Homo sapiens: one gene and its partners. The protein of the gene in region 3 purifies or fractionates together with the protein of the main gene of each other region. This does not show direct contact. Each region holds a gene or a part of one and is shown on either strand. Other genes may lie near its edges. The genes, in order: TUBGCP6, VIPR2, MZT2B and ADGRG5.

Region 1 (3,567 bases), on a different chromosome or scaffold from region 3:
CTGGCGTTGGACACATGTCCATGGATGTTCCACCGTGGCCGAGTGGGAGCCACATCTGACACAGACTCCCCTAAGCTGATGCTGGCATTGGATACGTGTCCGTGGGTGTTCCACCGTGGCTGGGTGGGAGCCACATCTGACACATTCTCCCCGACCCTGATGCTGGCGTCAGACACGTGCCCGTGGGTGTTCCACCGTGGCCGGGTGGGAGCTATTTCAGAAGCGTAGTCCCCTGTGGGAAGACCACCCCCTGACACCTGCCCAAAGAGCCGCTCTGTGGGCTGGCTGCTCCCCTCCTCCAGAGCAGCACGCCTGGGTGGGTGTGAGGGGAGCAGAGTCTCCCGCGAGGCGGAGCCACAGGCATCCATCTTCCCACAACTGTCCTCCCACAGCTGTAGCCCTGAGCTGCCCAAGCTGCACTCTGCAGCCTGCAGGGGCCCTGGTGCAGGTGAGGTGGCCACAGCTGGCCTCAGGACAGTACTAAAGTCGTACTCCTGTGGCCTGGAGGGCTGAGTGCTGGCTGCTGCGGGTGCCTCCCCAGGAGCTGAGGGGGGCAGGTCCAAGTTAATGGTCTGCAGCGCCACCTCCAGGAGAGGGACCATGCCAGTCTGCACGGACGGCTCAGCCCCTGGGCCCACAGGTAGGAAGTCTCCAATGCTGAGGCTGTCAGAGAAGGGTCTGGCCCCCTCCGCCTGCTGCAGCCCCCTGCCACCAGCCCCCACTGCTAGAGGCTTAAGGGGCTGTGGGGTCAGCAGGCCTGGCCTGTTCCAGCCATCCCAGGCAGGCGAGTGTTGCTCTGCAGACCCAGAATCACAGCCTTGGCCTCCCTCTGGGTGCTCAGGGCCCGGAGACGTGACCTGAAACACAGGTGACATCAGACCCAGTCTGGTCTCAGGACCCCCCAGCCCTCGAACTGTCCCCCAAGTTCAGCTCTGCAGCCATGACCAACACCAGGTGCCGAGGGCTATGGGAAAACCATAGGGCACCCTGGGTTCCACTCTGCCGCTTACCTGGGGGTGCACGCTCAAGAGGACGTCTGGCGGCTCCTGGGGCTGGTGAGCCTCAGACACTGCTTTCAGCATCTCCTGAAATTCAAGCCAGAGGGGTGACTGGCCAAGCCGGAGTCAAGCACAGCCCTACCCCACACAAAGCCACAGCCCCTACCGCCCATGGCAGCCATGTGCACTGAACCAGACAAGGCTTGTGCTGGGCTCCAGTGGGACGCTGGGCCTGCAAAAAGTACTCCAAAACCACGAGCTCCTCACCACCTGTATCTGTGCAATTTGGTGGCACACGGGGAGAGAGAGTGCTCTGCCGCAAACGCGAAAGCCACCAGCCCTCTCCTAGAAGAGCATGTAGGTTTGTGTGCAGTCTCAGGGGGTTTCCAGACCCCCAAAGCCCAGGGGAAGAGCTGCCATCTGAAGCCGCAGACATACCTGAATGTGTTTCTCATCTTCTAAGAGAAAACGAAGCCGTGCACTCTCCAGTCGGTGCCTCTGGATTCTCCACAGTGCCTTCTGCTCCCGACGAGCTGCCTCTGCAGAGAGCTTGCTGTAGTGGTCGACCAGTGCCTGCCTGAAGCCACACACCAGAGAGGACACGGCCACAAGAGTCACCCCACCCCATCTACCTGGCACCCCTCAGGCCAGGATGGTTCTCCATAACAGAGGCCCCAGTGGGCCCCCGCCCCCGTCTCCCCCTACCAGGGGCTGATAGCTCTGGGCCCTCACAGCACCTACAGGGCAGCACCAGGCAGGCCCTTCTACCTGCCAGGCTGGGAGACCCTGGTGAGTCAGCGTCCAGCCAGGGCTCAGCAACATCTGCTGGACAAATACCAGAATGAGATCCTGTGTGGCCTGAAGCAAGGGGTGAGCAGGAGGCCGAGGGCCCCAGGCCTCTAAGAAGTTAGGCCTCTTCCCCTTCTACAGGTACAAACCTGAGAACTGAAAACTAATGCAAAAAAGCACATGAAGCAAAACCAACACAAACGCTTTATTTGCTGAATTCAAAGCCTGCTTCACCGATCGTGCCCCATGATTTTGAGCTTCTCACCAGCAGGCAACTGGGCTCAAACCTGGACTGGCCAGCTCTAATTTGGCTGCCACAGGCCAGAGACGTAGTGTCTAGGCCTGGTTTTCTCCATGTGTTAACAGGACAGTATCGACTGACATACATGCATGAACACGTACTCATGCATAAATGCATACACGGACACACGTGCACACAGGCACGCGCACCCCTCCACACACATCCCTCACTCGCTCCATAAAGAGATCTAAGGTTGGGACCTACAGCATCGCGTGGGGCTGAGCAGGAAGCGGCCAGCCCCTCCCGTGAGGGGCTCTCTCCAAAACCCCAAACAGCCCCTTGAAGGATCCAGCACTACTCAGCCTGGGACAGCCTGATGACAGCACAGGACAGGTTGATAACAGCACAGGGAGACAGACGCAGATGCTGTGCTGGACAAATGCCCTGTCTCAGCCGAGCGCGGTGGCTCGCGCCTGTAATCCCAGCACTTTGGGAGGCCGAGGCAGGTGGATCACCTGAGGTCAGGAGTTTGAGACCAGCCTGGCCAACATGGTTAAACCCCGTCTGTACTAAAAATACAAAAAACTAGCTGGATGTGGTGGCGGATGCCTGTAACCCCAGCTACTCAGGAGGCTGAGGCAGGAGAATTGCTTGAACCTGGGAGGCGGAGGTTACAGTGAGCCGAGATTGTGCCACTGCACTCCAGCCTGGGTGACAGAGCAAGACTCTGTTTCCAAAAAAAAAAAAAAAAAAAAAAACGCCCTGTCTCTGTCAGACCAATAACAGACTTAAAAATAAATAAGGAAGGATGTTCAGAAAGAAGATAAATAAAGAGACAGGACCCCAAACAGTACGCAGGCCTCGCCTGGACCCTAATCCATACAAACCACCACAAGACAACGCGCAGAACAGCTAAGGATGCCTGGATAAGGCAGAACGCCCACAGCCACTCTGGGTTCAGCATATTGGTCTTTCTACCTTAATGTATGTTTGAAGGTTTTCAAAACAAAAAGTAAAATCATCAGTAAGATTAAGCCAGAGCTATGGGGCCCCTGCCGCACTGCACCCCTGGGCCTGGAGCCCGGGCTGCCCTACCTCGCCTTCCTCTCCAGCTCCTCCTCCAGGGACTTCAGCCTTCTCTCCCTGTCTCGGAGTTCACGGGCGTAGCTGAAGTCATCATCCAGCTCCTCCTGCCTGGCCGCCTGGCGTCGCTATAAAACACATAGAGCCTGGCCTGTGAAATCAGAACTGACAGGCGTGACCCCGCAGGGACAGGTCCTACCCACCTCCTGGTCCTTCACAAATTGTTCTTTCAGCCTCTGAAACTGCTCACGCTTCCGGGCATCCAAGGCCATCCGTTCTGACATCTGCCGGTCTACATTGGGACAGTAAGGGGCGCACTGTCACAAGGAGGCCCCAGCAAGGCCCCCCGGAACTGCAGAAGGGAGGACTTGGGGCCACTCACCACTCAGTGCACTCAGGACCCTGGATGCTGCTTCCCGGGCATGAGCGATTAATTCTTGTTTTGCAATTTCCATA
Region 2 (3,567 bases), on a different chromosome or scaffold from region 3:
ATTTTTCACTGTCAAGATGCCTTATTAGCAACAAAATCTTAGGTTACCTTCATGGAGTTGTCAAATAATTTGCATAATGCATAGCTTAAACATTTTTAGACCTACTATTTGGTCTTAATAACCACCTGGTGAAGGTTAGATATAAAAATGTTGCATTAATTATCTTCCAGATGAAAAGCACTAAGGTTCAAATCTTTTAATGAATTCTCAATATCACACAACAGTGATGGAATGCATGTTAAACCCAGGACTTTCCTACTTGTCCATGGTATTTATACTATATTTGAGACCTCTAAAATTTTACCTTTTACTTAAACCTCAGTATCAGAAAAGCAATGTGCTAGCCTTGGTCGGTAAAACAAACAAACAAACAAACAAACAAACAAACAATCAGTTTTCCTTTCAGCACATGCCACCCAGACCTGTGCAATAATTGCAGGAATACATCCATAGAGAACACACAGCTTTGGTGTGAACAAAGGAGTGTTTTACTTTCAAGAATACAGAAATGTCTCTGAAAAGCTGGCCATAAGCTAAGTTTTGCAGATGAAAATAGTTTCTAAATACTTTCAATAAAAGTGAAAATATATTTATTATAAAATAAAATTACATACCAATACTTGAATAAGTACATAAATTCATATTACATTAATGTTAACATATTTAAAGAAAATGTTGGTTTTCTTTTAAAATGTTCAAAACAAGTGATCAAATGTAAATGCATCACTAGAAACTCCAGGCGTGAGCCCCCGTGTAAGGCTGCTTAGAGTCTAAGTAGTAGAGTTATTTAAATGCTAAGTTCGTAAACCAAGCACTTCTAACTCTGGTGTGTAGGGCAGGTGGTGGAGAGGTGTCAGGATGGGGTTCCTAGCCAAGAGTGAACAAGATGGAGAGGAAAGTGAAGATGTCTAGGCCTCCAAGTGAAGACTCTGCATGTGATCAGCAAAGTTCTGTCCATCTCCTATAAAACAGCAAGCTCTGGCAGTTTCGTGTCTGGTTATTTTGAAGGTTCAGCTTTTTATCACAAAATGACAAATTTCTACCTTGATAATAGTAATGGCTGGGTGTGGTGGCTCACACCTGTAATCCCAGCGCTTTGGGAGGATGAGGTTGGTGGATCATTTGAGGTCAGGAGTGTGAGAACAGCCTGGCCAACATGGTGAAACCCCGTCTCTACTAAAAATACAAAAATTAGCCGGGTGTGGTGGTACACACCTGTAATCCCAGCTACTCAGGAGGCTAAGGGAGGAGAATTGCTTGAACCCAGAAGGTGGAGGTTGCAGTGAGCCGAGATCGCATCACTGCATTCCAGCCTGGGTGACAGAGCAAGATTCCGTCTCAAAAAAAAAAAGCAATAATTATATAATATTGTTATTTTAAAATAATGGGCTGGGTGTAGTGACTCATGTTTGTAATCTCAACACTTTGGCAGGCTGAGGCGGGATAATCCCTTGAGCCCAAGACTTCAAGACCAGCGTGGGCAACATAGCGAGACCCCATCTCTACAGAAAATATTTAAAAATTCGCTGGAGGTAACAGAGCATGCCTATAGTCCCAGCTACTAGGGAGGCTGAGGTGGGAGGATCACTTGAGCCTGGGAGGTCGAGGTTGCAGTTAGTAAAGATCATGGCACCGCACTCCAGCCCGGGCGACAGAGCGAGACCTCGTCTCAATAAATAAACAATAAATAAGATAATGTATAGTAAGATAACTAATACATAATACAAATTATAATGCAATAATTATATACTGTATAATACTAATTGCTGCTTTAAATTTCAACAGAGATACTAAATTCATACCACATCAAACAGTCTTTGCATTACAGTAGGATTTGATTTAAACATCTAGAGCTAATCATCTGATCCCTTCAATGGCCAGGGAAAGTCTTCTCTTCATTTGTTCCTTTATTGGACCGCACGTGAGGGAGCAGAGCTAGACGCTGTCAGGATGTGAGGAAGCGGACTCGAGGGCGTCAGGGCGCCGAGGCTGAGGTAGCAGCCGGAAGTGCAGCCGAAGGCGCAGCCGGAAGCGCTGCCACAGTGCCGGTCGCACACGTGGCACTGGCTGCAACCTCCTGGCAACAGCTGCCAGGCGGGAACACAGGAGTTTCTCTCTCAGCTTCTCAACCTCACGCAAAGGACAGCCAAAAATTTGAAAGGGCAGCACCAAGAGATGTCACTACAGCCTTGCAGACAGAAGCAACTGTGTTAAATAGGCAGGCAGAGGAGGGGGAGAAGCGAGAGACAGGCCATCGGTACCCCCGGCACCGGCAAGGGTGGAGGACGCTGCAGGGAACCGACGGGACCCGGCCGAGAGCCCCGACTGTGAGGAGGCGGCTCACGGCGCCTACCTGGGACCGACCCTGACTGTGAGGAGGAGACTCACGGCGCCTACCTGGGACCGACCCTGACTGTGAGAAGGAGGCTCATGGCGCCTGCCTGGGACGGGACCCGGCTGAGAGCCCCGACTGTGAAGAGGAGGCTCACGGCGCCTACCTGGGACCGACCCTGACTGTGAGGAGGAGACTCACGGGACCTACTTGGGACCGGATCCTGACCGTGAGGAGGAGGCTCATGGCGCCTTCCTGGGGCCAGATCCCCAACCGAGGACCCCGACTGTGTGAGCAGGAGGCTCACAATGCCTGCCTGGGGCCAGACCCCAGCTCAAGGATCCCGACTTGGCAAGGAGGGGGAATCCAGAAGGAGTGGCTCTAGGAGTGAGAGAAGAGAGACAGACCCTCTCACATTGTTTTAGATTGTTTTATACTCAGAAAAGGAAACAGAAGCGAAACTAAAGGCAGGTAGCCCAGCGCCTAGGAACCAGACCCGACACCAGGCCTGGACCTGCCTGACCTAAGCCTGGTAGTTAAAATTTGACCCCTGACCTAGCAACTGATGTTATCTATAGATTGCAGACATTGTATAGAAAGACACTGTGAAACTTCCCGGTCTGTTCTGTTTCACTCTGACCACCCGTGCATGCAGCCCCTGTCACATACCCCCTGGCTTGCTCAATCAATCATGACCCTTTCATGTGAAACCCTTAGCGTTGTGAGCCCTTAAAAGGGACAAAAATTGTGCACCTGACAAGCTCGGATTTTAAGACGCTAGTCTGCCAATGCTTCCAGCTGATTAAAGCCACTCCCTTCACCATCTCGGTGTCTGAGGGGTTTTGTCTGCAGCTCGTCCTGCTACAAGAGAAAAAATGGAACCCTGAGACCACCTCAGTGCAGTGTCTTGAGAGTGTTCTGGCCTGAGGTTTGATGCCTAATTATTGAGAGGTAGGTGAAAAACCCAGCAACAGAAAAACGAGGAAAAGCATAAAGTTATGAAGAAAGGAAATGCTGGATATTATGTGGCTCAACTGTGATGGCAATGATGTACACCAGCAATGTGAAGTGAGTCTATCAGGAGGCTGGCAGGATGATAAATTATACTTGGGTGGTGGGAATGGCACAGGAGAGATAGATCTTTATTCTTGTTAGAAATCTAATGGACACTGGGATGTAAATTGGGAGGAAGAAAGAAAAGAAACAGGAGCATAAGTATGCTGTTTAGAAATAAA
Region 3 (3,050 bases):
TGTGCGCACACACAGCCACCCTGTCCCTCAGCACTGTCAACTGCCTTGGTAGAAAACCTCCCATGAGGTGGGAGATCGAGACCAACCTAGCTAACACAGTGAAACCCCGTCTCTACTAAAAATACAACAAAATTAGCCGGGCGTGGTGATGGGCACCTGTAGGCCCAGCTACTTGGGAGGCTGAGGCAGGAGAATGGCGTGAACCCAGGAGGCGGAGCTTGTAGTGAGCCGAGATCGCACCACTGCACTCCAGCTTGGGTGACAGAGCAAGACTCCATTTCAAAAAAACCAAAAAAACCTCCCACATTTCACTTCAAGTGAAGCTTGTTGACGTCTATTTATAAAAGACCTGGCAATCCAGATGCCTTTTCTCAGAACCCAAATCAGGTTCAGGAAGTTGACCCATGGTGAAGGGACCTGGTTAGTTCACTGTGGCACAACCAGGACCGGCACAGAAACTTCATTCTAAGTGTGCCTTAATATAAAAAAAAAAACAAAAAAAAAAAACGGTAGACAACATCTGACCTGGACCCTCTGCATCTCAGAAAGGTTTATTATCAATTGAAGGAGGTAACATGTAGCCTTTGCTGGGGACAAAGATGCAACAAGTCTCTGCCCCATCCTAGGTGCTGCCCCGTGTAGGGCTCTTCCCAGGCCCGCCCCCCTTGGGCAGCCTGGTAGCGCTGGGCTGGCGTGGCATCCTCTGGCTGGATCCTTCGCGGCTGCTGCGTTCCGCCAGGGCCAATGCTCCCCCGAGGGCAGCGCTGCCTTTGTTTCTCCCTGAGGAGACACAAAGCACAATGATTAGGAATGGGCGTGCCCCGTAACTGCAGCACCTGCTGTACTCGTGGTCCTTGGGCAACATTTGTGTCTGCACATTTCCATCAAAGTCCCTTCAGCTAGAGGCCCTGCATCAGCCCCAAGTCCTGAGACTCAGAACCACTAAAGACAGGTCACGCCCCAGAAGCCCTTCGCAGTGTGCAGGGGACCCTTTTGGATGTGTCCTAGGAGCAAAGCCATGCAAGGAGCACACTGCCAAGGGAACATTTTGAAAGGACACATGCCACGGGCCCATTTAGGGAAAGGTAGGTGTGCTGGTCCACACCTAGCCTGGTCAGCAAACCTAGTCTGCCCTGATGGTGCCATCAGCGGCGGCAGCAGCAGGGATGCGCTGCCTCATCCTCAAGGTGTGTTCATGCTGGACTGCACATCTGAGCTGCCCTAGATGGTGACAGGCAGGAAGTACTGCAGTCACCAAGTCCTGGAATTGGGTTTCTGATTTTGATTTTGGAAGCTCTTTCATTGTTTCCTACCTACCCGAGTGTTCTGCAGTGGTCAAGCCTCTTGCTTTCGGGTTTAGCTGCCAGATTCCATGACAGGGTTCCTGCCACAGTCTGAATGCTTGAGACTTTCCTTCTGACCACCAGAGGCTCTCTTGGATGAAGACCACTGGTTCAGAGTTTCTTTGATTTGTAATTTGCTTACTTTACTCTTTAAGATAGCCAAGAAAAATCTGCAACCACACTTGGGCCAGACCTTTATTTTAATGGGATGGATTTCCCTGGGCTCAGGGTGTTGACAGCATCGGCAAGACTGAGAGGACCCTCCAAGGTACAAACGTGCCCGGGTAGCAGGCTTGCCCGTGGGGTCACAGACCCCCATGTGGAGTGCCTTGGCCAGGGCTCTCCCCTGCTCTGGCCTGGCAGGGTCTGGCCTGTGGGCTCTAAACAGGGCATGTGTCCCCTGCCTGACTCAGTGTTGGGTCCCCCATTTCATCCCCCCAGTGTTTCCTTTGTCCTGACTGAGGAAGTGCCTTGACTACTCTGACCTAATCAGCTACATGTTCCCCCTGCAGGCTCAAACCCTGGCTGGGGCTTGCATGTTACCAGACACTGATACACGTTTAGGTTGTTGCCTGGAACACTGAAAGATCTGACATGTTGCTAAGCACGTGGAAACTGGTCCCACCCCAGCCAAATTCCTTGCACCCTCATAGAAACTCCACACCCCACCCCCTCAGTGCGGTGTGCCTAGGCACAACCTCTTTCCTGGCTGTCCCTCGTGAGGGTACACTGCAGCCCCCTCTGTATGTAAGCTCCCTAACAAATGCTTTGGACTGACCACCCTGGCATTAAGTGTTTCTTCCTTTGGAATCCCAACTGGCTCTCATCCTGGAAAGGTTTGGGGCAGTCCCTTGCAGGAACTCCCCTGCCATCACTTTTAGGGTGACTCCAGACAAGGGTTCAGCCAACAGAACACCCAGCCTCAATCCTGGTCCTTCCCTGGCCTCTTATCAAGTGTAGTCAAATACCCTGCAATGGGAAACTGGATTCCTGGAGAAAAGATGCAACCGGGTGTCTAGAGATCCATTAGGTCATTTCTGTTTCACCATCTGTCACCCTGAACAAGCAGAGACTCCTGTGTCTGAGATGCCGTGGACCCCCGCTCTTCCAGAGGTACCTCCAGCTCCCTTTCTATGCTAATACCAGAAAATTCTCCCCATACCCTGCAGGGATAGGACGGCCCTCCTTTTGAGTTTCCGGGGAGTTCTTCCTCAGAGAATGAGATCTTTGCTCATTCTTGCCTGGTGGTGGTGAGGGTTACAGCGGTGTCATGCTTGGAACTCTGTCAGCTTGTCACACTTGACTCAACAAAGATGGAGTCAGGGTTGCCCTGAGCCAAGGAGGAGCGCAGTCAGGAACACGTGGTGGGTGATGATTGGCCACCTCAGCCCAGCAGTGACTCGTGAAAAAGGCACAAAGCAGACAATAGCCACCACGCATCTCTTGTGGTACAAACTGCCATAATTCTAGTCCCCACTGACTGGTCAAGGGGCAAGGATTCTGTCTTCCATGAGCAGACGGGCCCCGCCACCCTGCAGCAGCTCCCACACTGGGCCAGCATCCTCCTCTGAGGCCACAGTCCCTCCGCAGGCCAGGCCAGACAGAGTCAGATCTTCTGTAGCCGCAGCCTAATCTGGGTGCTTAGGTGCCCATGCGCTCTCAGCTCCCCACAGCACGCAGCATGGCAGGCCGCAGACTTGGGCCTGA
Region 4 (3,567 bases), on a different chromosome or scaffold from region 3:
TGCTCTGTCAAACATGAAACAGATCATGTGTTTCATCCATCAAAGATAATGTGTTCTAGTTACCTCCAGAAACCAGTTTGCTTGGTGGCCTGTGACCCCAGCTCTCCAGTAGGCTAAAAAAAAAAAAGATTTTGTATATTATTTGGCTTTCCCATTGTTATGATGGGAACAATACTCCCATCTGACTCTCTACTTTCTAGGTGGAAATCGAAATCATCTTAATATGGTTTTTACACAATTAAAAAAACTCCTGTTCAATGTTTCTATTATGACTATATGCATTACATTCCATATTAAATCATGTAGCGGCATTTCGTTTTCTTGTACAACTTGGTTTTCTTGAAATTAATTGCTTCTTTTTATTTTTGCATTTATAAACTTCGGTAAGACATCTCAAAAAACAATTTTTCTAGATGTTCAAACCTATTCGATAGTCTATCTACTCTCCTTTTCCTCTTCCTTATTTTTTTCTTGAAGACCTCCCTCCCAGGGCATTCTTTTCTCCTGCTCCCTCCGGATGGGAAATGCCCTAGTCCTGCTGTTCAGCATCAACCCGGGCCTTCCCTTCACACATTTTCTGGGGAGTAGCTTTACCTCTCCCATGGTAGGATACAGGGTTTCCTGTACCCTGTGTCTTCCTTCATGATATACTTTCTCATTTTGTTGGAGCACATCCTCCAGCAGCTTCTCAAGAAAGGATGTGTGTTTTGAAATTCTCAGTAATCCTTGGTTGACCATTCAAGAGAGGAGCACTAAAAACCTAATTGCTTGGCAGAGCTTGGTGACTGGTGAAATTTCACTGTAAGTTAGGTCTTGGCCATAACATTGAGGAACACAAAAATGGAAGTAGCTATAGGATACTATTCTTGGAATGGTTAGCTCCTCAGAGACTTTTCTCCTGCCTTGGGGCATAACCCTGGTTGCTGCAGTCTTCTGGAATCTGAGTGGGGGAGGATGTGGGGAGGGGATATTGCTTAATTCCCCCTTCTGTTCTGATTATGGTGCATCCTCTCTCCAGAGAGTAAACTTTGTGTGGAGCAGGATTGGGGATGGTAGGATGGTGAGGAAACTCCTGAATACTGGAGGTGGCAGGGGAGATCTGGGGACTGAGTTGGGCATTTTAAAGACTCACAACCAACAAACTCTGTTTTTATTTTTATTTTTTATTTTTTTGAGACAAGGTCTCATTCTGTTGCCCAGGCTGGAGTGCAGTGGTATGATTTTGACTCACTGCAGCCTCCATCTCCTGGGCAGGATCCACCTCACCCACCTGAGTAGCTGGAGACACAAGTGCAGGCCACCATACCCAGCTAATTTTTGTTTTCTTTTTGTAGAATCAGGGTTTTGCCATGTTGCCCAGGCTGGTCTGGAACTCCTGGTCTCAAGCGATCCTCCTGCCTTGGCCTCCCAAAGAGTTGGGATCACAGGCATGAGCCGCCATGCCTGGCCAACAATCGCTGTTTTTAGCCTCTTCCTTCATCCCCTCTTCAGAGGTTACTGATGCCCCCAGTTCTCAAGTGCTTCCAAGGTTGTGAGGCTTCTCCTTGTCTCCTGCCAACACCACACCTCTCCCCACTGCAGGCACTTGGGTTCAACTTTTTTTGGTCTGCTAAACGTCTTACCAGGTGCCACCTACTTGTAGCCTCCAAAATTTAGCTGACATCTCCCATCTCTGCAGTTGTTTTCTTTCCCATTGTTCTGTCTTTGTGCCTGTTTTCTAAGGAGTAGCTTTACCTCTCCCATGGTAGGGTACAGGGTTTCCTGTACCCTGTGTCTTCTTTCATGATTTACTCTCTCATTTTGTTGGAGCACATCCTCCAGCAGCTTCCTGAGAGGCTTTGTGCCTCCTTTCTTCCCCATTGTACTGTTTTTCATGCCTCTTTTCTTTCCCATTGTTCTGTGGCTTTGTGCCTATTTTATTCATTCCCTCTCATTTTAGTGGGGCTTTAAGGGGCAGACATAAATTTGCTCTATTGAAGCAGAAGTTTATTAGTTCATTTTAAAATGGAGGAAAATGAGGGCAGAGGAGAGACAGATCCTACCCAAAGCCGCACGATGAGTTAATGGCAGGGCTGGATGGGGTTTACCTGTTGCTTTCTCCCAAACACCGTCCCCCTGGGTAGAGACTGGGATCCTGGGGAAGCCCCCAGAAAGACTGCTTTTTGGGAAGGGGAGTGTATCAGGCGGAGCTGCTAATGGCAGCCATTACTTGGTGGTCAAGGATTCTGGAGTCTTAGAGACCTGGCTTTAGGCAGGTTTAAGTAAAGCAAGACCCTTTGCCCTTCATCCTCAGCTTCCTCATCTGTGAAATGCAGGAGTGGTGAGTCAAATAAGATGCTGCATGTCCTACTCTTGGGACATGCCAGACACCTAGAAGTTAGAGGTTGCTCTTTTATCATCATGGTGATGGCATGCACCTTTTTCAGGGCCGGAGCCAGTTCTTGGAGGAGACTCTGCACAGGGCATGGATCACTGTGGTGCCCTTTTCCTGTGCCTGTGCCTTCTGACTTTGCAGAATGCAACAACAGGTAAGGGGGCTCTGCTGAACTGGGGGCAGCCCTAGCCCAGTCGTGGGACTGTGATGCAAAAGGGGGAGGCGTCAAACCATGGGAGATTGAAAAGGGCCACTTAGGCTTCCTGGGGGCAGCAGGAGCTGCTTGTGAACTAGACTCTCAGGGTGGGATGGAAAGCCCAGAGGTTGTGGGGCCAGAGGGCAGTTGAGACACAAACTGAGGGGGAGGTGTGTCCCCACAGAGACATGGGAAGAACTCCTGAGCTACATGGAGAATATGCAGGTGTCCAGGGGCCGGAGCTCAGTTTTTTCCTCTCGGTGAGTTGGATGTGCCTCCCACCCCAAGCCTGCACCTTGAATCAGTGGGTCAGGGTTAGTCTAATGTAGACTCTTAACTGTGCATTTCTTCAGCACTTTTATTGAGCACCTACTGCATGCCTGACACTAGGCTCTGGGGATGCAGGATGGGCATGTCACTGCCCTCATGAAGTTTATCATCGAGGAATGGGGGCCCTTAATCATAGATGTCATGACACTAAGTGCAGAATTATGGGTCTCCATGCATTTTCCTGGGAAGGGGGTCTAAGATTCTGGCTGGGCTCTCCAGGGTCTATGACCCAAAGACTGAGCAGCTCTAGGTGAGCGGCCAATGCTGAAGACTGGTCAGGGCTAAGAGTGGCTACTGGGAAGCTGTGAGGGAGCAGTCAGGGAAGGCTTCCTGGAGGAGGTGACAATAAACTGGGACCTGAACAGGAGTTAATCAAGAGGAGGGGATAGATGGGGTAGGGAGGTAACAGTGTGCCAAGGACACTGTGTGTGCAGTGGTCTGGAGGTGCGTGTGACAGAGGTGTGGGTGGGGAGGCCCTGCCCTCCCAGGCTGTCTACAGCCCCCTCTCACCCTTACCCCACTCCGGGCTCTGGCCTCCCTGGCCATCTCTCTGGGCTGCAGTCAACTCCACCAGCTGGAGCAGATGCTACTGAACACCAGCTTCCCAGGCTACAACCTGACCTTGCAGACACCCACCATCCAGTCTCTGGCCTTCAAGCTGAGCTGT

The links.
Region 1: the proteins of MZT2B (region 3) and TUBGCP6 purify together in Homo sapiens (affinity purification with mass spectrometry; 3 studies listed by BioGRID and IntAct, with this or other methods). This does not show direct contact.
Region 2: the proteins of MZT2B (region 3) and VIPR2 purify together in Homo sapiens (co-immunoprecipitation; one large-scale study listed by IntAct). This does not show direct contact.
Region 4: the proteins of MZT2B (region 3) and ADGRG5 purify together in Homo sapiens (co-immunoprecipitation; one large-scale study listed by IntAct). This does not show direct contact.

Annotation. Positions count from the first base shown.
Region 1 is NC_000022.11:50,221,018-50,224,584, forward strand, and holds part of TUBGCP6 (gamma-tubulin complex component 6), read right to left. Parts: coding exon 3,494-3,567; intron 3,404-3,493; coding exon 3,315-3,403; intron 3,240-3,314; coding exon 3,124-3,239; intron 1,576-3,123; coding exon 1,437-1,575; intron 1,086-1,436; coding exon 1,011-1,085; intron 858-1,010; coding exon 1-857. UniProt on the Homo sapiens protein: Component of the gamma-tubulin ring complex (gTuRC) which mediates microtubule nucleation.
Region 2 is NC_000007.14:159,110,340-159,113,906, forward strand, and holds part of VIPR2 (vasoactive intestinal polypeptide receptor 2 isoform 1 precursor), read right to left. Parts: intron 1-3,567. UniProt on the Homo sapiens protein: G protein-coupled receptor activated by the neuropeptides vasoactive intestinal peptide (VIP) and pituitary adenylate cyclase-activating polypeptide (ADCYAP1/PACAP).
Region 3 is NC_000002.12:130,188,199-130,191,248, reverse strand, and holds the end of MZT2B (mitotic-spindle organizing protein 2B), read right to left. Parts: intron 2,743-3,050; coding exon of another isoform or gene 2,663-2,742; exon of another isoform or gene 1,525-2,662; intron 781-1,524; coding exon 623-780; coding exon of another isoform or gene 558-622; 3' UTR 522-557; downstream 1-521. UniProt on the Homo sapiens protein: Required for the recruitment and the assembly of the gamma-tubulin ring complex (gTuRC) at the centrosome.
Region 4 is NC_000016.10:57,559,630-57,563,196, forward strand, and holds part of ADGRG5 (adhesion G-protein coupled receptor G5 isoform 1 precursor), read left to right. Parts: intron 1-2,426; coding exon of another isoform or gene 2,427-2,464; coding exon 2,465-2,528; intron 2,529-2,754; coding exon 2,755-2,830; intron 2,831-3,461; coding exon 3,462-3,567. UniProt on the Homo sapiens protein: Orphan adhesion G-protein coupled receptor (aGPCR). Ligand binding causes a conformation change that triggers signaling via guanine nucleotide-binding proteins (G proteins) and modulates the activity of downstream effectors, such as adenylate cyclase.